7 linked regions of the Homo sapiens genome follow. The protein of the gene in region 5 purifies or fractionates together with the protein of the main gene of each other region. This does not show direct contact. Each region holds a gene or a part of one and is shown on either strand. Other genes may lie near its edges. The genes, in order: ACVR1, PCNX3, OMA1, UGCG, KCNK18, PPP3CB and LRRC8A.

Region 1 (3,500 bases), on a different chromosome or scaffold from region 5:
CCTCTCTTCATTTACTCGCTTATTCAGACATTCATTCACTGATTCACTCCCTGGGTTCAGACCTCTCCATGACATTATGTCATCAGGCCCTGTTCTTCCCTACAGAGGCCTTACCCATTTCCATATTACTGGTCTCTTCAGCCATCCAATCACAAGCTTAACTTCCTTTACGTATTTGTTTAACTTTCCAAGCCCAACTAATCAACAGCTTGGCATACATCATACTCCATGGCATATGTCATTTGCATGAGAAAGTGTAAAACTAACAAAATGCAACGCTGAATTATAAATACTGTGGCCACGCTAATCAGATTAGAATGTCCTTAAATTCAAAAAAAAAAATCTTCTATTAAAACTCAAGGTCTAGCAGAGTGATCTGCAGATTAGAAACTTCACAGTTGGTATAATAATGTTTGTATGAATTCAGACATTTGTTTATGTCCATCCACCCAATTAATAAAAATTTAACTCACAAAGTATAACAGTAAATTTTATTCCATCAAGGACCCTTTTAGTTTTAACCATGTAAATACTTGATCTCCTTTAAAACCCTCTTTGATTATTCAATCCTATTTGCTTGTCAGAATTTAACCTTTTCCATATGCCTTAAAGTCATCACCATAACTTCAAAATTACTAGAACATGATCTTGCATCAGCTTTTTTGTTCTTCTGCCTCCTTTCTTGCTGGCTGACATTTCTAGTTTTGGATGCTCGTCGTTACCTCTCCTCCACTTTTTGGTTTGTTTCTTTTTTCTGAGTGCAAAATTAAATAACTAAACCTATTAAAAATGTACTATATGGTAAGAGAATAAATTTGGCTTGGAATGAGTTTACATAAATGTTTGCAGAGACTTTAAGATTGCAATTTAGGGCTCATTTAATAGGGAAACAGTTTCAGAGCTGGACTGGTTTCCTTAGCATATGCAATCTGTACTGATGGTAGAGAGAAGATTCCACAAAAACTACAGGGTTTGTGCGAAATCTCATCCTGCTTCAAATTTCAGTGATAGGGTCACTGGGCATCAGATATGGGAGAAGAGGTCAGTGAGCCTTCTTTTATCTCCTTCCTCATAAAACAGGAAAGGCATTCCACTCAGTCACCAGTCCGTTCTGTTTTCCTCCCTACACACTTGACACAGAGATGAGTATTTACTAGCAGAATTGTTTCAGAAATTATGAATGACATCATGGGTCAGTAACATAAAAAGGTATTGGGAGCTGTTCACCTGAGTCACAGCAACCAAGAGAAAGCTAACTGGTCAGCTAAGCTGTCCCCAAGATGGACATCACCTTGCTTACATTCCCCAAAATGCCCATCCTTCTTTTAGATGCCAAAAGGCTGTTCCTTTCTCTTCTTCACCCAGGGTGACCTTCCTTGTAGCTCTTCGCCTCTGATTCAAAATGTAGGTGGAATGCCTCATAGCTACTTAGATCTTTAACCCACACGGACCCAGGACAACACTAACAAAACCCCTTGATCTAGAAATAGAAAAGTCCATGGGAACCTTTAGTGGGCAGCTGGGCCGTGATGTTCCTGTTACACCAGTCCCCTTGGCAGCACTCCACGGCTTGGCCAGGGGACGGCGGGGTCTTACAGGTCATCTTTCCCTGCTCATAAACCTGGAAGCAGCCTTTCTGGTAGACGTGGAAGCCATCGTTGATGCTCAGTGAGGAAAAGCACTGCTGGCCTTCACAGTGGTCCTCATTACCGCAGGAGAGACCTTCACACACACACATGTAGAGTTTGGGGTTGACCTTGGGCTTCTCATCTGCAAAGGAGAGAAAGGAAGGGGAAAAAAAAAAAAAAGAGGAATTACCGTATGAGTTTCACCTTCATTGAGGGAATGACCATTCCAAACACCTCTATCAACAGAAAGTCAAGCTAAGCATCACCATCAACCATGAGGTCCACATTCTGTCACCTTGTCACCTAACCAACCAACAAATAATAATTGCCTCTCAACATAGCGATTCATTTATATAAGCTGTGCACCCTTTTAGATCATATTAGGACAAAGACTGGCTATCATCTGTCCACAGACTTCTGAAAATGAGCTTCTCCCCCTGTGGTGTTCATATAACCTTCAGCGTGATTGGCTCTAAGATCCCAATTACTGCATCAAAATAAAATGTTTTACTGGAACATAATGTTTATCACCTTTATTCTATTCCAAAAAAAAAGCTCCTAAATATATGGCAGCTATTAATACTAATTTTTGCTAGCTCTGTACAAATCCCCATCAACTCGTAAAACAAGGAATGCTGACATTCTTGCAGGTACATGGCAGAAATATACTACAAACTGAGTATCCCTTACTCGAAATGTTTGAGACCAGAAAAGTTTCAAATTTAAAAATTTTTCTGGATTGGGGAATAGTTGTATTTATCCTGGCTGAGCATCTCAAATCCAAAAATCCAGAATTCAAAATGCTCCAATGAGCATTTCTATTGAGCATTGGGTCAATGCTAAAAAAGGTTTGGATTCCAGAGCAGTTCAAGTATCAGGTTTTGGGATTTGAGATGTTCAACCTGTAATATAATAAGAGTTTGCAAGGCTGTACAATCTATAATTACAATCCATGGTACCAATATTTCCAGCTAGATGCCTAGACTAACTTTTTCACTAGTGGTAACACTAAAGTTTACATAGATTATAGTGGGAATTAACACCTGCTTAAGAATTTTTGGCTGGCAGGAAAAAAATGGTGCCAAATATGGAGAATGAGGGCACAAGGAGACCAAGAGAACCGAATAATGTTTGAACAGTAAGGTGACAGGTGGGACCACTGGAAGAATACACACCTAGGGAGTTCAAGGTGCAATGGAAAGAGGCAGAAACGGATGATCAGGGAAGCACATCTAATCACTCTGCTTAATTGTCTCTTTCTGAGAATACTTATTTGCATCTGCATTTTCACATTACTCTTTTCTCTTCCCTTGTCAGTATGATTAGTTTAGACTTGCTGGTCCCACAGTTTCTACTAGTGGGGAAGGAAACAGAGGATAAAATGTAAACAGCCAAGTCCTAGAGGCCACTGATTAGTTAGCTGAGGCCACTTTTGCCGAAGCACTGTTCATATTAGGAAATTCAGCTTTCAGAGCTCCCTCCAAAGGTCTATGGCACATAGAGGCTGCCTTCTAATCCCTGAACCCTCAGTAGTGGGTCTAGGAGATAAATGCTTCTTTCTTAAAATAACAGGTTGGGTGGCTGTGCTTTCCAGAGGAGACCTTAAGGTAAGGTCTTTGAAAATGTCAAGTTCATTTACACAGATTTGTGTGGGTGTGTGTAGAGATGTGGGTTATCTCAAAAAGAGAAAAGCATTCTTAATCTTTCTTCTTCCCTCTTCAAAGAAGTGGAAAAATAGTTCACTGCCCACTGTAATGTGGGTGCCTCGTCCCACAGAGTAAGTGCATGCAGACACACAGACACAGCCTTCTATTTATAATTGACTTGCTAGTTCCTTTGAAAACCACAAGGGGCTCATCCAAGAGCAAAGAC
Region 2 (2,582 bases), on a different chromosome or scaffold from region 5:
ATTCTGTCACCCAGGCTGGAGTGCAGTGGTGCCATCTGGGTTCACTGCAGTGTCCACCTCCCAGGTTCAAGTAATCCTCCTACCTCAGCCTCCCAGGTAGCTGGGACTACAGGCATGCACCACCATGCCTGGCTAATTTTTGTATTTTTTGTAGAGATGGGGTTTCGCCATGTTGTCCAGGCTGGTCTTGAACTCCTGGGTTCAAGCGATCCTCCCACCTCCACCTCCCGAAGTTCTGGGATTACAGGTGTGAGCCACCCTGTCTGGCTGAAGCTTTTCTTTTCTGGGTCTTTTTAGCAGCTCTGGTGGTGCCTGGATTGTAGAGGCGAGCTATGGGCAAGAAAGTCAGTCTGGAGCGGGTCTGCCCTGGCAAAGGGCCTGCCCCATTAGCTCCATCTTAGGGTGGCACATGGAATCCCCATCACCTCACTGGCTGCCCTGCCGGCCTTAACCCGCCCGTGCATCCTGGCCATGCCAGCTACCTGTCTTCCAAAGCTCCTGTACTTTTGCCCAACAGGGCCTTTTAACAAGAGGTCCAGGAGCCCCCAGCTTTGGGTACCACATGTGCCCGTGGCTTTTTTCTGAGGCGAGGCCTGATGGCTGTCATGCTTCAGCTGCCTAAAGGGACCTGTGACCCAGGCACTCTGAGGCAGGCCCACTACTTCAGCCTGCCCTTCCGGCCCCGAGATCTGGATCCCACAATGTCATGATGGGGAAGGTCCGGGGTTCAGGCGGCAGTTCAGTCTGTTCTGCCCCACTCGCTCCCCGCCCCCTGCCCATGTGACATCTGGATGCTCCCGCGCTCGGGGTTATGTTTGTGCAGGAACACCAGCTCCTGCTGCTACCTGGCCCACGTGCTGCACAGGCACTGAAGGTTCACCTGAGGGCCACACCATAGTGTCGGGGCCAGCCAGAGGCGGGTGGGGGACAGGGTTCAGGGCAGGTGGGGCCAGCTCCACCTTGATGACTTGGAAGCTGAGGTGGTAAATGTTGAGTGTGATGATCTTGTTCTCGTTGGGGGCTGCCATTTGTTTGAGCCTCAATTTCTCATACAAACGGGGCATATTCTAGGGCAGAGGCAGGCAGATGCTGCTTGTGAGTGCTAGCCCCAGCACAGGACTTCCTGCTCTGTAAGTGGGTGCTTCCTGGCGGCTTTGTCACTCCTCCCTGGTCTAGGGGAAGGAGCCAACTTGCTTGGTTGCTCTTGAGAGCTGAGATGGCTCTAGGAGCGGGGCATCCCAGAAAGCGGACTTCAGCTCAGTCTTGGGGAGGAGCCTCTGAACCTCCATGCTTTCTCCTCCAGTGGCCAGGGCCGGGACCCCGGCCTGACGCCTGCCCCTCCTCTCCCAGAGCATCATCTACTACGTGAGCCGCTCACCAAAGCTGGAGGTGTGGCTCAGCCATGAGGGCATCACGGCAGCCCTGAGGCCTGTGCGGGTGCCCGGCTATGCCGACTCGGATCCCACCTTCTCGCTGAGTGTGGATGAGGACTATGACCTCCGCCTGTCTGGCCTCTCGCTGCCCTCCTTTTGTGCTGTGCACCTCGAGTGGATCCAGTACTGCGCCTCCCGGCGCAGCCAGGTCAGGCTCCACTACCTGAGGCTGCCACCTGGGGCTGTGGGACCTGGGCTTCCCTGCTCCCCTTCTCCCCATTTGGTTTCCTCTCACTCTGAGCCTCCCTTAGCCTGAGCCCCAGCCCCCACTCCAAGGTCCCTGTCCCAGGTCTGAGCTGGGCTCTGGGATGGGGGTCCTTATGCCACAGCCCGTGGACCAGGATTGGAACTCCCCGCTGGTCACGCTGTGTTTTGGCCTGTGTGTGCTGGGCCGCCGGGCCCTGGGGACAGCCTCTCACAGCATGTCTGCAAGGTGAGTGCTCGGGTGTCCCGCGGGGCCTACTGCCGTCCCCACCCCACCTCTTCCACGAAGAGCACTGTGGTCTCTGGCCACAGTGGCCACAGAAACTGCAGTGGCCCTTCCTGTTGGGGTACCTCTTCTCCCACGGGCAGGGCACTTCCTGGTCATGACCTTGCCTGCTCCTCAGTGCTCTGTGAGAGACATGGGCAGAGATTGGCCTCTTTGTCAAGATGGGGAAACTGAGGCTCAGCGTGAGGAAAGGCCTCTGCTTGGATCACTCTGAAGCCTTACCCCTGGGTCCTCGACACCCCTCTCTCCCCTCCCTGTTTTTCCTCCCACTTAGCCTGGAGCCCTTCCTCTACGGCCTGCACGCCCTGTTCAAGGGGGATTTTCGCATCACCTCCCCACGTGACGAGTGGGTCTTTGCCGACATGGACCTGCTTCACCGCGTTGTGGCGCCTGGGGTTCGCATGGCCCTCAAGCTTCACCAGGTTGGGGAGGGGTGTGCCCAGCAGCATGGGCAGGTGGGGGATGAAGCCTCTCTCCAGGGCAGGGGCCACTGACCCCTGTTCCCGTCTTCTCTACCAGGACCACTTCACGTCCCCAGATGAATATGAGGAGCCAGCAGCCCTATACGATGCCATTGCGGCCAACGAGGAGCGGCTGGTCATCTCACATGAGGGTGACCCAGCATGGCGCAGCGCCATCCTCAGCAACACGCCCTCCCT
Region 3 (3,500 bases), on a different chromosome or scaffold from region 5:
TACGAAAAAACAATTTAAAAAACTACAACTTAAAAATATATATAGTAAAATAACTATTTACATAGCATTTACATTGAATTACAAGTAATCTAGAGATGATTTAAAGTATATGAGAGGATGTGCATAGTTACATGCAAACACCATGCTTTTATTTTTATTTTTATTTTTTTTTGAGATGTAGTCTCACTCTGTCGCCCAGGCTGGAGTGCAGTGGCGCAATCTCGGCTCACAGCAAGCTCTGCCTCCTGGGTTCACGCCATTCTCCTGCCTCAGCCTCCCAAGTAGCTGAGACTACAGGCGCCCGCCACAACGCCAGGCTAATTTTTTTGTATTTTTAGTAGAGACAGGGTTTCACCACGTTAGCCAGGATGGTCTCAATCTCCTGACTTCGTGATCCACCCACCTTGGCCTCCCAAAGTGCTGAGATTACAGGCATGAGCCACGGCGCCCGGCCAATACCATGCCATTTTTTATCAAGGACTTGAGCATACTCAGATTTTGGTATCCACAAGAAGTCCTGTATACCAAGGGACAGCTGAATTTGGGAGTCATTCAGTTACTACGAAAGGAAGGGTCAGTGGCTGGGTTTTCTCTCTGTAAAACCAATAAATATATTTTCAAAAATTTTATTAGCCAAAAGTTGCCAAGCCCTTCTAACTCTCCATACCCATCATTTGAGAGATGTAGTATTCCTTAATTTAAATATTCATATATAAGAATATCCCCTAAAAACGAGAAAACATAAGACACTAAAAATTCGTACCCATATTTCATAGTAAAATGTAAAAACATCTCTGGATTTGCTGCTTTACAGTAGTATTAAAATATCTTCACCAGAGGCTATGATCAATTCAAGTTATTGTCTCAGACTTACCTCCTGCAATTTAGACTGTATCCACTGGCACAAAAGTGCCAAGCTATCTCGAGGACAAATGGCCCAAATCATTGTGAGGAAAATCATACCTAGGAAATCCAACAAATGAACCATGCCAGCCTTTTCTGCCTAAGAATAATCAAAATAATAAAAACTACATTTTATACATTGAGACAGTATATGCTTACATTTTCTAGTTCATCATGTGTTACAATTACCTGACCTTCTCCACCTAAGACTGAGAGTTCTCTTTTTCTTCTTTTGCTTATTCTTTCCGGGTCTGTTTTTCCCTTCCTTGGTTTATCTACTTATATACCTATTCATTCATTTAACTAGTATCTACTAAGCCACTTACTATTAGTCAGAGGATATAAACCTACAATTTCTTATATTAACAGGCATAATAATCTTGTGAAATAGCTACAATTATCCCTACATTTATAGATAATGAAACTGAGATAGAGAGAGGTTAAGAGTTGCCCAGATTTGCACAGCTATTACTAAAAGGACCAGAAATCAAACCCGGTCAGTTTTAGTTTTTAATATAGTTGCATCATTTTAAAAAATCAAGTAAATGTTTTATTTTACTAATATTTTTGGATAAAGACTAAACACTACCTAACATATGAAGCACTTAAAACAAGAAAAAATTCAGAAAAAGACTGGAAGTTTATTTTAAATAAAAGTATTCTGATCTTCAAGACCTAATATATGAAATATTATTCATTTATACAAGTTTGTAAATTTGTAAGTCTAGTATTTATCATGAAAGAATCAGGTTCTATGAATTTTTGTATTTACTTATATCAGTTACCAAAAAAGATTTTTCATAAAATAGTTGTTTTGAGTAGTAATATCTAAGTTTAATGAACTAGATTGTTCATGGTTTGCCATTAAAGGTGATTAGTAAATGTTAATGTTGTAATGCTGAAACTGATAAAATAGCAGTCATTACTTGAATGTATGAAAAATGACTGAAAACTAAAAACTGACTTAGAATATTGTCCCTTAACAAATATTGTACCCTCACAAAACATACTTTACCTCCTTATATTTGCCTCATTACTTTGCCTCAAAACACAAATGTGTGTTTTGAAAAACAATTATGGATTTATCTTTTTTTTTTTGAGACAGAGTCTTGCCCTGTTGCCCAAGCTGGAGTGCAGTGGCGAGGTCTCGACTCACTGCAACCTCCGCCTCCAGGTTCAAATGTTTCTCCTGCCTCAGCCTCCCGAGTACCTGTGATTACAGGTACCCACCACCATGCTCAGCTATTTTTTGTATTTTTAGCAGAGATGGAGTTTCACCATGTTGGCCAGGCTGGTCTTGAACTCCTGACCTCATGATCCACCCACCTCAGCCTCCCAAAGTGCTGGGATTACAGGGGTGAGCCACTGTGCCCAGCCCAATTATGAAATTATTTTAACATGAAAAAGTGAAACTCAAAATAAGGAAGTTGTTATAGAAGAGAAAGCCCTTGTTATTAAAGAATATAATTGCTATTATACAGTCTTAGAAAACTGGAAATACACACACAAAAACCTGTATTTGTAGAATAAAGAAAACATAAACGCCTAGATAAAATCAAAACTGAGACTCCCAAAAGAGAAAATATTGTGCTGACAATGTTTAAGATCTCTGCAAAAACATATTAATAACTATGTTCTATTTTTAAGGCTGCTGTTTGCTTTTTACACCTCATCTACTACTGTTCTTGCACTGATAGAGATGACAATACACTGAATATAAGGCACTGAACTAGATGCCTAAAAAACAAATGTACTGAATAGTAACACCTTTCAAATGCTAAAATGGCCAAAACTGATTTTGCAGTTGTGAAGCCATTACTTGAAAGATATTAGAGTGCATATAATAACACTGCTTAGACGTATTCTTGTGTATATTTGTTTAAGAAAAAAAGATTTTTTTTCTTACTTTTTTGTTTGAGACAGTGTCTCACTCTGTCACCCAGGCTAGAGTGCAGTGGTGCGATCATGGCTCACTGTAGCCTTGATCTCCCAGGCTCAAGCAATCCTCCTGCCTCAGGCTCCAGAACAGCTGGAACTACAGGTGTGAGCCACCATGCTCAGCTAATTTTTAAAATTTTTCTGTACAGACTGAGTCTATGTTGCCGAGGCCAGTCTCAAACTCCTGGGCTCAAGCAATACTCCTGCCTCAGCCTCTCAAAGTGCTGGGATTACAGGTATAAGCCACTGCACCCAGTCAAGAAAAATGTTTTTAAAATCTTCCTGTAACTCAAAAGAAATCAAGGAGATAATTACTTTCAGTGTTTCAGAAAAACAATTTAGCCCATCTCATCTTATTAATAGTCTAAGGAACAGGTAGAATTTGAGATTACTCTTAGAAGGATTAGAATCATTATCATTTCCATTTGAAGTTAATGTTACTTGTATTTCTGATTTAGCATTTCAGTCACTTCACTATGTACCTTTGCGTTTACAATTTAAAAAATACTTTCTCTAATGTAGACAAAAGAGCCATTTATATTTTTAAATGAATAACAATTTAAAAAATGTGTGAAACAGATGTGTTATTTTTCCTGGACTTATATCAAGATGAACAGACATGTATTCACAGGAGCATACATCAACTTGAATTCTATGAT
Region 4 (3,500 bases), on a different chromosome or scaffold from region 5:
GGATTACAGGCGTGAGCCACCACGCCCTGTCTGTCTCATTTTTAAATAACTTCTTTTACAGTTCTGTTTTCAAATTTGGCTTTTGCAAGAGGGAAGCCTGGGATGCAGGGAAACCCACTGGAGACAGGTAAAGGTTAAACAAGGAGGGTGGGCTCCTTCCCCTTCAGATGGCGGGAAGCAGCCTCTGCAGCAACCTTAATACAGCTCCTCACAAGTGAGGCACAAGAATTTCACTCGGCTGGGTACAGTGGCTCATGCCTGTAATCCCAGCACTTTGCTGGGCTGAGATGGGGGAATCACTTGAGGCCAGGAGTTCAAGACCAGACTGGCCAACATCATGAAACCCCACCTCTACTGAAAGTACAAAAATTAGCGGGGTGTGGTGGCACGTGCTTGTAGTCTCAGCTGCTTGGGAGGCTGAGGCACAAGAATCACTCAAACCCAGAAGGCGGAGGTTGCAGTAAGCCGAGATCGCACCACTGCCATCCAGCCTGGGCAACAGAATGAGACTCTGTCTCAAAAAAAAAAAAAGAGAGAATTTCACTCTAGGTTTCTAAGGAAGAATATGAATTCCACAAGGGCAAAAGTTCACCTTGCTTAACAACCCCAGAATGTGTTGTTTTTATAATTCCGCTGTGTGGTTCTGCTGAACCAATTTATCTGACTCTAGGAATTTATCTTCCCTGCTCCAAGTCACAAAGCTTGTTAGTATTTCGTGTAAAATTAGGTTCACTGCTATATCAGCAAGTCCCTAACTTCACATAGTCCATGCCAGCAATTTCCAGTGACTAATGACCTTTGTTATTGTTATCACTCATGACTATATTACTGTTTGTTTATAATCAGTATATCATGACCAATTTACTACCTGTATCACTTATTTCAAAAATGGTATTGCTTCAAAATGGGCTTCATAAGCAATATAAAGCACACCTTCTTGTGCAAGCTTAACCTTGCTAACACAAATTCTCTCACAGAAGGTAAAATAACCAATAGTGAGTTAGCTCTATAGGAAAACACAAACTCTGCCCACTGGACAATGGGCTTACTACACTATAGAATGTAGAAGATTCCACCACCATAGAAAACAAATAGGAGATGGCTGGGTGCCATAAGGGGCACCTAACCCAATAAGGAACTAAAGTCTAAAATGACTTGAACGAGTAGGAGTTAATTAAGCAAGATTTTTGGAAGGAAAGAAGGAAGAGAAAGAAAAAAGAAAGAAAGTAAAGACAATTCCAAAGAAAGCACATTGTACATTTGGGGAAATGCCAGTAATACAACGTTGCTGGTTCAGCTCCTACAGAGCTGTGCTTGTCTCATTAAGGAGTTTGAACTGTAACCCGGAGGCAATGAGGATTCATGGTAAGATTTTAAGCTACTGTGATCCAAGATTAGTAATCCAGAAGGATAAAGGCTACAATAAGAAATATAAAATCGAGGGGGCACAAGGCTGCAGCTAGAGATACCAGCGAGTAGACATAGCTTCAACATCTAGGATAGATATGAAGGTGTGCTGAACTAACTAATGTCAGAGAGAAAGGCAGGGATAATGAATCAATAGAACCATCACTGAATACTAAAATCTTGCAATTTCCACTTTGCTCTTTTTCTTTTCTTCAACTTTTAAGTTCAGGGGTACATGTGCAGGATGTGCAGGTTTGTTACGTAGGTAAACATGTGCCATGGTGGTTTGCTGCCCAGGTCATCCCATCACCGAGGTATTAAGCCCAGTATCTATTAACTATTCTTCTTGATGCTCTCCCTCCCCACACTGCCCCTCACTTTGTTCTTTAAAGCTATCACACTATAGTCTAATTCCGTATCTTCCCAGGCTCAGGTTAAAGGGGCTGAATTGCTGGACTGCCTTATTCATTTCCCTGAAAGTAGCCCTGTAGCAATGATCCTGACTGATGAACGTTTGACCACAGTCCAAGGGCATTGGCAGGACTAAACCCAAAAAAGACGTTCTCAATTTACATTCCACTAAGGCTTGGAACACCAAGTATTCATGAATTTAAGGCAAAGATCGTACTAACTAAAAATAATATCCCAAATGCTAAAATTTACATGAAAAACATAACCAGTTTTTGACGGGTAGTTTATCGCAGTTATCCTGACACAATGAGTATGCAAATTCCATTCAAAAACTGTGCATCAGGTATTGAAGTTGCTGTACATTAGAGATAGCATATTTGGGTTGGGCGCAGTGGCTCACGCCCGTAATCCCAGAACTTCAGGAGGCCAAGGTGGGGGGATCACTTGAGCCCAGGAGTTTGAGACCAGCCTGGGTGACAAAAATTAGCTGGGCGTGATGGCATGCACCGGTAGTCCCAGCTACTTGGGAGGCTGAGGTGGGAGAATTGCTCGAGCCTGGGATGTGAAGCCGTGATCGAGCCACTGCATTCCAGCCTGGGCAACAGAGAGGACTGTCTCAAAAAAATAACAATAAACAAAATAAAGGAAATACGTTTGTAGAAAGCAGAATTAACTTTAAAAAAAACTTAAAAAATCTCCAGGGGGCCAGGCATGATGGCTCACACCTGTAATCCCAGCACTTTGGGAGCCAAGACAGGTAGATCACTTAAGTCCAGGAGTTCAAGACCAGCCTGGGAAACATGGCAGAACCCTGTCTCTACAAAAAGCACAAAAATTAGCCAGGCATGCCTGTAGTCCCAGCTACTTGGGAGCTACTTAGGAAGCTGAAGCAGGAGAATCATTTCAGCCTGGGATGCGGTGGTTGCAGTCAGCCAAGATCGTGCCATTGCACTCCAGCCTAAGCAACAGAGCAAGACCCTGTATCAAAGAAAGAATACACACACACACACACACACACATATACATATACACCTCCAGGTAAAAAAGGACCTCTGTTTTACTTGAGGGTAGCTAATATTTAAGGACACATAAATTATTTCCACACTAGCCTAGCACCTCCAGTCGAAAGATAAAGCCTGATGATAAACATTAGGACCTTATGTACACAGGGAAATAATAATAATATGAGGTGGATGGGATAGGGAAGAGAGCATGAAGCAAGGTTTCTGCTTAGATCACTTCATCACGCAGCAACGTGGCTCCCAAGGGCTAGAAGAGAAACACTACCATCAGGTCTAGGCTTTTATACAATTTCACCTTAGGCCCCAACCTATCAAGCCACACTAGCACTTACCATTAAAAAAAAAAAAAAAAATTAACCCATAAAGGCTATTTAACTTGCCAAGGCTATACTCTTTAGTTATTTTTAGGAAATCTTCAATCTCAACAATAAGACTCTTGAATTTGAAATGTCTCTAATCTGAATGTTACCTTTGACATTGTTGGCAGAAATCCTACAAACATCTGCCATCTAAAATAGGTTAAGAAAGGGCAATAGAAGCTTTGAAACATACCCAAGTATAAAGCAGAATTTAGTTTATAATAAAAATATTTCAAAACAGTGGAATAATCAAATAATCATCTGATAAGTAATTCTGGACAAGTCTCTAAATATTTAGAAG
Region 5 (3,500 bases):
ATATGGGATACGATCTCTCTGAGCCTCTGGTTTGGTAAAAGAGGCAGACATTAATTTTAAAAACCACACTAATGAGTATGTAATTACAAATGGAGATCAATAACAGGAAGTGAAAGAGCAGACCATTCCATGAATGATTAGAACAAAGGCACCTATCCTAAGCCATGCGCAATGGCTCACACCTGTAATCCCAGCAATTTGAGGGGCCAAGGCGGACAGATCATATGAGGTCAGGAGTTCAAGACCAGCCTGGCCAACGTGGCAAAACCCTGTCTCTACTAAAAATACAAAAATTGGCCAGGTGTGATGGCGCATACCTGTAATCCCAGCTACTTGGGAGGCTGAGGCATGAGAATCACTTGAACCCAGGGGGCGGAGGTTGCAGTGAGCTGAGATCGTGCTACTGTACTCCAGCCTGGGCAACGGAGCGAGACTCTGTCTCAACAAAAACAAACAAAGGCACCCATCCTGGATTTGGGCCCAGGAAAGATTTTTCCTGTGAGGGGATTTTTGAGCTGATGTTGGGAAGGGGTCACAAACTAGCCAGGTGAAGAGAGAGGAAGCAGCCTGTGCAAAGACCCTATGGCGGGTTCAACAAAGGGTTATCCATACAGTGACAGTGGGGCAACTTGTGTACTGCACATATACCAAGGGGGTGACTGGGAGCTGAAACCTAGCCTCCGTGCACTTACCAAGCTTGGAGCTCAGGGCTCGGGGCACTGGGCTGTGTCTGCCTAGTGAGGGATATGGTTTTCTAACTTTTCACCAAGGTGTCACCCTGAGTGTAGCTGTCACCCAGCTTTAAGGAACCAAGAGAAGGCCAGTGTGTCTAGTGTGCAGGGAGGTAGGGGAGGGGAGCAAGGGGAGGCCGGGAGGTGGGCAGCATCTAAGGGCTTCCATGGCAGATGGGGGAGTGCCTTGATCAGTGTGGAAGGCTGAAAAATGACAGCCCCCAAATATAGCCAAGTCCTAACTCCTAGAATCTGTCAATGCTACCTTATTTGGTAAGTGGGTCTTTGTCGATGTGATTAAGGATCTCAAGATGAGGAAGTTATCCTGGATTGTGTGTGTGGCCCTAGGTACCATTACAAGTGTCCTGATAAGGGAGAGGCTGAGCAAGATATTTTACACAGAGAAGAGGAGGTAATATGACCTCAGAGGCAGAGACAAGAGTGATGTGGCCACGAGCCAGGGGATGCTGGCAGCCACCAGAAGCTGCCAAGGAAGAGGCAAGGAAGGGTCCTCTCCTAGAGCCTTAGAGGGAGTATGGCTCTGCCAACACCTTCATTTTTGAAATCAGTAAAACTGATTTCGAATTTCTGGCCTCCAGATTGTGACAGAATAAATTTCTATTGCTTCAAGCCACTGAGTTTGTGGGAATTTATTACAGCAGCCACAAGAAACTAATAAAATCAGGTTTGTATCTTTTTTTTTTAAGATGAGATCTTGCTCTGTTGCCCAGGCTGGAGTGAAGAGGCGTGCACGACCTTGGCTTACTGCAACCTCCACCTCCTGGGTTCAAGAGATTCTCTTGCCTCAGCCTCCTGAGTAGCTGGGACTACAGGCACCCACCACCATGCCTGGTTAATTTTTGTATTTTTAGTAGAGACAAGGTTTCACCATGTTGGCCAGGCTGGCCTCGAACCCCTGACCTCAAGTGATCTGCCCACCTCAGCCCCCCAAAGTGCTGGGCTTACAGGAGTGAGCCACCACTTCTGACTTGGTTTGCATCTTGAAAAAATCATCCTGACTGCATCACAGACAGTAAATTGTAGGGCTTCAGATAGACGCAGGACAATGAGTGGGGATGCTATGCTTCCTGCCCAGGTGAGAGATAAAGGGGGCTTTGGCTGAGGTGGGAGCTGAGAGGAGAGACCTGTAGGGACTGGCAGAAATCTCAGCAGGACAGGAGGATGGTTTGGATTGGAGTGCCTGAAAGGAGCTGGGATTTGAGCACAGAGCAGGCACTGTGAATCCACCAGAATCTACTGCTGTCTTTGGCAAAGGTGGGTTTACAGGATTATAAACAAAGCCTTTTTGGCTGCCTCTGGGTGAGATACTTTTGCAATCCAAAATATGCAATATGTCACATTCCTGAAAAAGTTTAAAGGAAGCAGGTCTCAGAGAGCACACAACCCCCACAAAGGGAATGTATTAACTATTCTAATTACTGAATGCCAAAATGCATAATGGAACTCATTATTTCTTAGAATGCATTCATATATTTTGATACAATCAGTTCACTGCACTTGGCCTGTGAGTACTTAACAGCTCATGCACTTTCCTTTCTAATCCAAGAGGGATGACCCAGTTGGGAATGACGGGATTGACCGGCCTCACAGCTGTCAGGTATCCTGTGCTTAGCATTAAGGCCAGGTGCATTTCAGATGACCCAGAGATGCAGGGCAGGAAGCAGTATTACCAGAGAGACTTTCAAACACCGTTATTGATTATGGACAGTGCGGAACATTCCCCAACATCCTCTTCCAGTTGTTTGTAATTACTGGGCGGCATGATGTCCTAATTGACTCGTACAATGGGCAGTAGCATTGCCTTCTTGGAATTTAAGCCAAGCTAATGCATTTCCATTAGATCAGTGACTCACAGCCTGGACTCCCACTAGAATCACCTGGAGGGCCCTGGAAAATACTGATGTCTGGGCCTGGTCCCTAGGGATTCTGTTTGTTCTAGGGCAGGGTCCACACATGGGAGCTTGCAAAAGCTCTGCAGGTGACTCTGACATGCAGCCAGGGCACGCTTCTCAAACATTAGCACACATCAGAATCACATGGAGAACTTTCTAAACTACAGATTGCTGGGTCCCACAGCCATGGTTTCTGGCTCAGTAGGTCTAGAATGGCTCCTGAGAATTAATTTGCATTTCTATCAAGTTCCCCAGTGATGTCGATGTTACTCAGGGACCACATTTTGACAACCATTGCAATAGATCATTTCTCAATAGCGGGCAATTTTGCCCCCCAGAGGAAATTTGGCAATGCCTGGAGACTATTGTGGCTGTCATAATGGGTAGGGACAGTGGGGAAAGTGCTATTGCATCTGGTGGGTGGAGGCCAGAGATGCTGCTCAACATCCTACATTGCACAGGAGCCTCCTCTGCAGAGAATTATCCCATGCAAGAAGCTGATAGTGCTGAGGTTGAGAAATCCTGCCTCAGATGCATCTGAGGTTTTTTTCTTTTTTCTTTTTTTTTTTTTTTTGAGACTCTGCCATCCAGGCCAACTCTTGTCACCCAGGCTGGAGTGCAGTGGCGCGATCATGGCTCACTGCAGTCTCAACCTCCAGGGCTCAAGTGATGCTCCCACCTCAGCCTCCTGAGTAGCAGGGACTACAGGTGCACGTCACCACGCCCAGCTGATTTTTTTATTTTTTGTAGAGATGAGGTCTCATTGTATTTCCCAGACTGGTCTCCAACTCTCACCTGATCCTCCCAAAGTGCTGGGATTACAGGCATAAGCCAGGGCACCTGGACCAACCTAAAT
Region 6 (3,500 bases), about 44 Mb from region 5:
GGCTCTGTTCTTTGTGGGGGACCTGAAAGGACTTCTCCTGTCTACCAGTAACTTCCTTTCTATTCTAGTACTGATGTTCCAAATACCTACAGATACTAACATCTATAGCCTTAAAAAATTCCATTTATACTGACAGAGTTTATCATGAACTCAAATTTGCCTCAGAAAAAGACTACTGAGCATCTTTTCAAACTCATCTACCAATTAAAGAGACATTAAGGAAGAGAAGTGAGGTCTTACAGGCATAAATTCTAATTATTTCATGATATAGACACATAGGTCATATTATAAATAAGAAATACATTATTGGTATAGTGTGTCACTGGTCCATTTAGAGAATTTCACCATAATTAGTCAAACATTTTATAGTCAAAGATTCTTTTTTTCGCTCATTTCTGGGTTTGAACTGTATAAAGAGCTCACACTGAGGACCAGGACTCAAGATAGCACACAACAATACTGGTTTACAATATTGTCCATTCCCCTTATTACTCAGAATATTTGTAAAAGTAATGCCCTGGTCTCTCCTATTTTGCTTCTTCTGCAATAAGGCCAATTAGAATAATTATTCCTGAAGTGATCTTTTAGCAATTAACATGATTTAGAAATAATTTTATCCAAAGCAATTATTAATGTAAAAGAAACTGATGAATCTAAGGTATTAAAGTGAACTAAGTTAGAAAATGTTGATCTTAACCAGACAGTAAAGTGAATTGGGGACCCAAAAGAATTAGGACGAACACTGAATAAAGGAAGAGTTAATTTTCCTTAACTGTTAAACTACATTACAAATCGGGCAGGACATGGAAGATCATGCCTATAACCCCAGCACTCTCGGATGGCTGAGGTGGAAGGATCCCTTGAGCGTTTGAGCCCAGCCTGGGCAACACATAGAGAGACCTCATCTCCCCCCAAAAAAAGTTTAAAAAATTAGCCGGGCATGGTGGTGTGCATATGTAATCCCAGCTACTCGGGAAGCTGAAGCAGGAAGATCACTTGAGCCCAGATTGCTAATTGCAACACTCTATCTGAAAGGCACTATTTCTCCTCTATTTGTTTTCAGTTATATAGGGCATCTTGTCATGGCCTTAATAAGTTTGAGCATAGTGCTATCTCAAACTGTGTTCCTCAGTACTATGCAAGATAAATGACCAAGAGGAATTTGGTATTACTAACATAGAATTGGCCACATATATTTCCCATATAGATCCTGGTGAGGGTAGCATTACAGTGCTAGCTCCCAATCAAATTTCCCAGAAAGAAAACATACATAAAATAAAGATGAACAGAAAATCCACCTCCAATAGAGTTGTGCAGTTTGTAAAAACACTCAAGAAACATCATGTAAATTAACTTTTAAAGTTCTTGAAACGACAATTTTTATTTTCTGACAAATAGGCACGAGGTCTTAGAATTAAAATTTTTTCCTTTTGCAATACCTAACTCTCAGTTATACACACTAACATCAGGGAACATTATCTACTAAAATTTAAAATGTAGGATAACTTTTTAAAAAATAATCACAAACATGCAGCTTTTGTATGACCTTTGTTATTTGTTTCAAAGTGGATTTATCTTATGCTAGGAAAATAATTTTGACCAAATGCCCAAACCACACTATCAAGAGCTAGCAAAACTAGAAGCTATCTAGTTTAAGGGGTCCCAAATTAGACCCCTTAAACTCAATTCCTTCCAGTAACTTAGTCCATGCTGAGAATAGAGAGTCCCTCCAGCAAAGCTGCTGTCTTTCAAACCTCCCCTGCAGTTGAGGGTGGTTTCAAAGTTGAAGGAATGAGCTTCAAGCCGTGTACAAATTAAGAATAAACAGAAGTCAACAAAGCATGTAATTAGCAGGGGCTAATCGTGAAATCTGAAAGCAAGGTTTGCTGCGGATACAATATAAAAGTAATGTTATATCCAAGGATAACTGAGAGATGACTATACTGTAGATTTATTTAAGTATGATACCCTTTTGGTTTTATTTTTCTTTTCTGAACAAAGAAGAGTATAATATTTTTGAAGCTATTAAAGTTCATCCTTTTCTATTAACATTTTTACTAGTTTTATCAAATGTTTAAGATCTTGTTTTAATGTACATTCATGAAATTCTTTTTAGTTCATTTTTCTAATGTTTACAATATAATAAGAAAAATGGAGGGCAAGGAATGTAAAGCAAATCAAAGCAGGTTGTTTTTTTTTTTTAAAGAAAATCAAAAAAAGAAACCTCATTCAGAATGAAAATTTATAATTTCAAAACACAGTGTACTTTTCAGATATACCAGTGGTGGTAGTGAACAATACAATGACATTTAAAATAGAACATGTATAGGCTACAAGTAAAAATTGTTTACAGGAAAAAAATTTTTTTTATTGAAAAGCAATCATTGGCCAGGCATAGTGGCTCATGCCTATAATCCCAGCACTTTGGGAGGCTGAGGTCAGAAGATTGCTTGAGCCCAGGAGTTTGAGACCAGCCTGGGCAATACAAAAATATAAAAAAATAAAAAATAAAAAAAATAAAAAAAATTAGCTGGCTGTGGTGGCATGTGCCTATGGTCTTAGCTACTTGGGTGGCTGAAATGGAGGACTGCTTGAGCCCAGGAGGTTGAGGCTGCACTGCACTCCAGCCTGGGTGACACAGCAAGAAACCAGACCCTGTCTGTCTCTCTCACACACACACATGTACACATGCACACAAAAAAAGAAAGACAGAGAGAGAGAGAGAAAGAGAGAGAGAGAGAGAGAAAGAAAGAAAGAAAGACAGAAAGAAAGAAAGAAAGAAAGAAAGAAAGAAAGAAAGAAAGAAAAAGAAAGAGAAGAGAAGAGAGAAAAGAAAAAAAAAGAGCACTTATTATGGAACCAAGTGAAATGAAATTGTGAAGTCAAATGTAAATTCATTCAAAACGTTAAAATTGCCTATTTTTTTCCCTCTAAAAAAGTCACTAATTACAACACCAAAAAGAAACCTAATTATGACTAAGGAAAACATCAGATCTGTTGCTATTTTAATAGACAATGACCCTTAGAGGGCTGTCAAAAGTGACTACAAGAAATTCAGGCTTTTCCACATCATGTATTTTTGCTTTCCAACCACAGGAAAAGAAATCTAGACTGAATTACTGTGTATGGTCACTAATACTCACATCACTCTCTTCTATTTAATCTGTAATGGGCTTTTAAAAAGTTAACCCAGTATTTACACAAATATTTACGCCAAAAAAAGTTTTTTAAGTATAAAATATTCAATGAGCCAGATTACAGGAATGCTTTACGTATAATTCTTTTTATTTTCATGCAAAATAAAGGCACACTTAATAACACCCTTTCAATTTTGACTTACAGGATTTAAATTCAACCCCTTATAACAATGACTTAATATCTAATGTTACATTCATGTTCAGAATGCACAAAGTGCAGCAACAAATGCAGCAAACCTCAAAACAAGGTGCTACAAAGCTGCTTCTACATTGCAAGACAGACAAGTGTCTGATGGAGTAATT
Region 7 (3,500 bases), on a different chromosome or scaffold from region 5:
CTTCACCTCGCTGGGCTCTGGTTTCCTCATCTGTAAAATGGGTTGACAAGTCTATTGCTTGGAGGGCTGTGATGAGGACAGAAGGAGACAGTCCATATAAAGCTTTTGGACTAGTGCCTGCCATACAGTAAGGCTCTGGAACGTTCACTGCTGTTATTATTATGGTAGAGTTTAAATCAGTCCTTTTATGGGTGTGATGTCGGAGGCCCAGAGAAGTTTGGTAACCTGCCCAAGGCCACACAGCTAGGAAGAGCTGGGAAGATGCACCCCAAGCCCGACTTTCCATTGTGCCAACCTGCCTCAAAGACAAGCAGGCCTCCCGGACCCACCTGGGACCCAGGCCCTTGAAGATACTTCTTGAGACAAGATACTCTTTTCCTTAGGGGGTACATGGAAACCAGGGCTCTACAGGGAACCCCATCAGGCCATACTCAGATGCCTCTGGTCTCACGGGTACTGCTATAAGGAAGCTCTGGAAGGGAGCCTAGCCCTGGGTTTAGGGCCAGAAGGCAGTGTTGGGTCTGGGCCCTGGGGGCAGAAGGGCCTAGAAGGCAGGCCGTTTTATTTTTTTTGAGACAGGATCTTGCGCTGTCGCCGAGGCTGGAGCACAATGGTGCGATCATGACTCACTGCAACTTTGAACTCCTTGGCTCAAGCGATCCTCCAGCCTCAGCCTCCGAGTAGCTGAAACTACAGGCATGTGCCACCACACCTGGCTATTTTTAAAAATTTTTTGTAGAGATAGGTTGTTATGTTGCCCAGGCTGGTCTGGAACTCCTGGGTTCAAGCAGTCCTCCAGTCTCAACCTCTAAGTAGCTGGAACTACATGCACATGCCACCACACCTGGCTAATTTTTTTTTTTAGACGGGATCTCACTCTGTCACCAGGCTAAAGTGCAGTGGCACAATCTCGGCTCACTGCAACCTTCGCCTCCCGGGTTCAAGTGATTCTCCTGCCTCAGCCTCCCAAGTAGCTGGGATTACAGGTGCATGTCACCATACCCGGCTGATTTTTGTATTTTTTAGTAGAAACGGGGTTTCACCATGTTGGCCAGGCTGGTCTTGAACTCCTGACCTCAGGTGATCCACCTGCCTCAGCCTCCCAAAGTGCTGAGCCACTGTGCCTGGACTAATTTTTTTTTTATTTTTGTAGAGACAGGTCACTATGTTGCCCAGGCTGGTCTGGAACTCCTGGGCTCAAGCAATCCTCCACCTCAGCCTCCCAAAGTGCTGGGATTACTGGTGGGAACCGCCACGTCCAGCCAACGTTTGTTGGCTCATATTTGCACATGGAGTCACGGCCACACACGGTTTACAGGTCTTAACCTGTTATGAATACCAGCGCTGCCTTCTTAGACAGGTTATGAAATGTGGCCACCAGTACCCTAGAGAGGCAGCAGACACATCTTCTGCTGAGATCCCAGGGGAGTGGGCACTGGCCAAGCCCTAGGTGAGCCAGGGGGAGGACTGGGGGGTCTGACAGAGGGTGAGCTGCCTGGTACCCGACTCTCTGGGATGGAAGGGGGCTACCCCCAGGGATCCTGACTCATGGAGTCAGCTGGGAGATGCGAGGTGTCCCTTCAGGGCCAGGATTCCCGCCCACCGCCCCCGCTGCTGGTCAGTGCGTTTGTCATGCTGCCCGTCAGAGGGCGCAGGTTTGGCAGTGGCACTCTGACGGCGTCCAGGTGGCACGTGAAAGCTATGGAATTTTACAGCCACTTTTACTCCACTGGAACATTGCTCTAGGCGTGAGGCTTAGATTGCAGCAAGCAATTTAATTTTGAGGTTTTAAGCCCTCAAGAGACGTTTAGATGTAGACAAACTTGCTGCAAGACGCAAGACGCAACAGAAACGCATCTGGAAGACAGCAGGGAACATTTGTGGCTGGGAGTAAAAGCCCTTCTAGAAACCTCAGCCCCACACGTCCTTGAGGAGGGAAGGTTAAGCCCCTCGCCTTCCCAGCACACACACACACACACACACACACACACACACACACACAAAATGAAGCCACTAAAAAACAACTGTCTGGCCAGGTGCGGTGGCTCACACCTGTAATCCCAGCACTTTGGGAGGCCGAGGTGGGTGGATCACCTGAGGTCAGGAGTTCGAGACCAGCCTGACCAACAAGGTGAAACCCCGTCTCTACTAAAAATACAAAAATTAGCCAGGCGTGGTGGTGCACATCTGTAATCCCAGCTACTTGGGAGGCTGAGACAGGAGAATCACTTGAACCCAGGAGGCAGAGGCTGCAATGAGCCAAGATGGCACCATTGCACTCCAGTCTGGGCAACAGAGCAGGATTCCATCTCAAAAAAGTAAAATTAAATTAAAAAAATTGGCCAGGCGCAGTGGCTCACGGCTGTAGTCCTGGAACTTTGGAGAACAAGGTGGGTGGATCACAAGGTCAGGAGATCGAGACCAGCCATGGCCAATATGGTGACACCCCGTCTCTACTAAAAATACAAAAATTAGCTGGGCATGGTGGCGGGCACCTGTAGTCCCAGCTACTCGGGAGGCTGAGGCAGGAGAATAGCTTGAACCTGGGAGGTGGAGGTTGCAGTGAGCAAGATTGTGCCACTGCACTCCAGCCTGGGTGACAGAGCAACACTCCATCTCAAAATAATTAATTAATTAATTAAACAAAAAAAAAAAAACCTGTCCAGTCCCAGTCCTGTGGGGAGCTCAGCCCTGCTTCCACACCAAGGGCATGAGTTCTGCGGTAGACGACTGGGACTAAGGCTGAAAGAATGGCGTCCGGTCAGTGTTTCTCAGCATTGTTTGTAGCCCACCAGCCTCACAACTGCTGGGGAAGCATCTTCAAAGTTCAGATTCCTGGGGCCAACCTTCCAGGGCAGACTCTGCAGGTCTGTGGTGGTGGGCCCAGGGGAACAGCATTTTAGACAAGCTTCCAGGTGACTTTGAAGGCCCCCAAAAGCCTGGGAACCTGAGAAAAGAGGGTAATGGAGGGTGAAGTAGAAAGAGCCCCAGCTGCCAAGCCATACCAACCTGGGTTCAAGTCCTAGCTTTGCCACATGTACACTGTATAACTTTGGGCCAGAGACCTCATCCCTCTGGGGCTTGGTCTGTAAAATGGTAAAGCAACCTCACACGCAAGGCTGTGGCGAAGGTAAGATGGGCAAATGCGTGCAGCATCCCAGCCTGTGGCTCAGCACTGAGACATGGTGCTGAGAATGACCACGGACTATGAAGGTGCTACTGCAGGAAGGAGAAGCCAGAGACGCTGAGCACCATCTGTGGAGGGGCCAGCTCTGCAGCTCTCTCCCAAGCAGTGTATGGGAGAGAAAAGAGACTCCTGGGGAAGAATGGAGGAAGTGACGTGGGGGAGGGAAAGCGACAGGACAGTGAGCCTGAAAAACACAGGTGAGATGTCAGGAGCTCTGGCACAGACCTCACTCCCAGCGCGATCCTGCCAGACGCTCTCGCAGCCCCGCAAAACGAGGCTGCCACGCCTGTATGCTCTCCTTGCCCAAACCCTT

What was found.
Region 1: the proteins of KCNK18 (region 5) and ACVR1 purify together in Homo sapiens (affinity purification with mass spectrometry; one large-scale study listed by BioGRID and IntAct). This does not show direct contact.
Region 2: the proteins of KCNK18 (region 5) and PCNX3 purify together in Homo sapiens (affinity purification with mass spectrometry; one large-scale study listed by BioGRID and IntAct). This does not show direct contact.
Region 3: the proteins of KCNK18 (region 5) and OMA1 purify together in Homo sapiens (affinity purification with mass spectrometry; one large-scale study listed by BioGRID and IntAct). This does not show direct contact.
Region 4: the proteins of KCNK18 (region 5) and UGCG purify together in Homo sapiens (affinity purification with mass spectrometry; one large-scale study listed by BioGRID and IntAct). This does not show direct contact.
Region 6: the proteins of KCNK18 (region 5) and PPP3CB purify together in Homo sapiens (affinity purification with mass spectrometry; one large-scale study listed by BioGRID and IntAct). This does not show direct contact.
Region 7: the proteins of KCNK18 (region 5) and LRRC8A purify together in Homo sapiens (affinity purification with mass spectrometry; one large-scale study listed by BioGRID and IntAct). This does not show direct contact.

What each region holds. Positions count from the first base shown.
Region 1 is NC_000002.12:157,778,831-157,782,330, forward strand, and holds part of ACVR1 (activin receptor type-1 precursor), read right to left. Parts: intron 1,771-3,500; coding exon 1,507-1,770; intron 1-1,506. UniProt on the Homo sapiens protein: Bone morphogenetic protein (BMP) type I receptor that is involved in a wide variety of biological processes, including bone, heart, cartilage, nervous, and reproductive system development and regulation.
Region 2 is NC_000011.10:65,632,776-65,635,357, forward strand, and holds part of PCNX3 (pecanex-like protein 3), read left to right. Parts: intron 1-1,303; coding exon of another isoform or gene 1,304-1,350; coding exon 1,351-1,581; intron 1,582-1,762; coding exon 1,763-1,866; intron 1,867-2,197; coding exon 2,198-2,345; intron 2,346-2,442; coding exon 2,443-2,582.
Region 3 is NC_000001.11:58,529,727-58,533,226, forward strand, and holds part of OMA1 (metalloendopeptidase OMA1, mitochondrial precursor), read right to left. Parts: intron 1,004-3,500; coding exon 875-1,003; intron 1-874. UniProt on the Homo sapiens protein: Metalloprotease that is part of the quality control system in the inner membrane of mitochondria. Activated in response to various mitochondrial stress, leading to the proteolytic cleavage of target proteins, such as OPA1, UQCC3 and DELE1.
Region 4 is NC_000009.12:111,899,814-111,903,313, reverse strand, and holds part of UGCG (ceramide glucosyltransferase), read right to left. Parts: intron 1-3,500. UniProt on the Homo sapiens protein: Participates in the initial step of the glucosylceramide-based glycosphingolipid/GSL synthetic pathway at the cytosolic surface of the Golgi.
Region 5 is NC_000010.11:117,203,989-117,207,488, reverse strand, and holds part of KCNK18 (potassium channel subfamily K member 18), read right to left. Parts: intron 1-3,500. UniProt on the Homo sapiens protein: K(+) channel that conducts outward and inward rectifying currents at depolarized and hyperpolarized membrane potentials, respectively.
Region 6 is NC_000010.11:73,440,525-73,444,024, forward strand, and holds part of PPP3CB (serine/threonine-protein phosphatase 2B catalytic subunit beta isoform), read right to left. Parts: exon of another isoform or gene 3,265-3,500; intron 1-3,264. UniProt on the Homo sapiens protein: Calcium-dependent, calmodulin-stimulated protein phosphatase which plays an essential role in the transduction of intracellular Ca(2+)-mediated signals.
Region 7 is NC_000009.12:128,888,633-128,892,132, reverse strand, and holds part of LRRC8A (volume-regulated anion channel subunit LRRC8A), read right to left. Parts: intron 67-3,500; exon of another isoform or gene 1-66. UniProt on the Homo sapiens protein: Essential component of the volume-regulated anion channel (VRAC, also named VSOAC channel), an anion channel required to maintain a constant cell volume in response to extracellular or intracellular osmotic changes.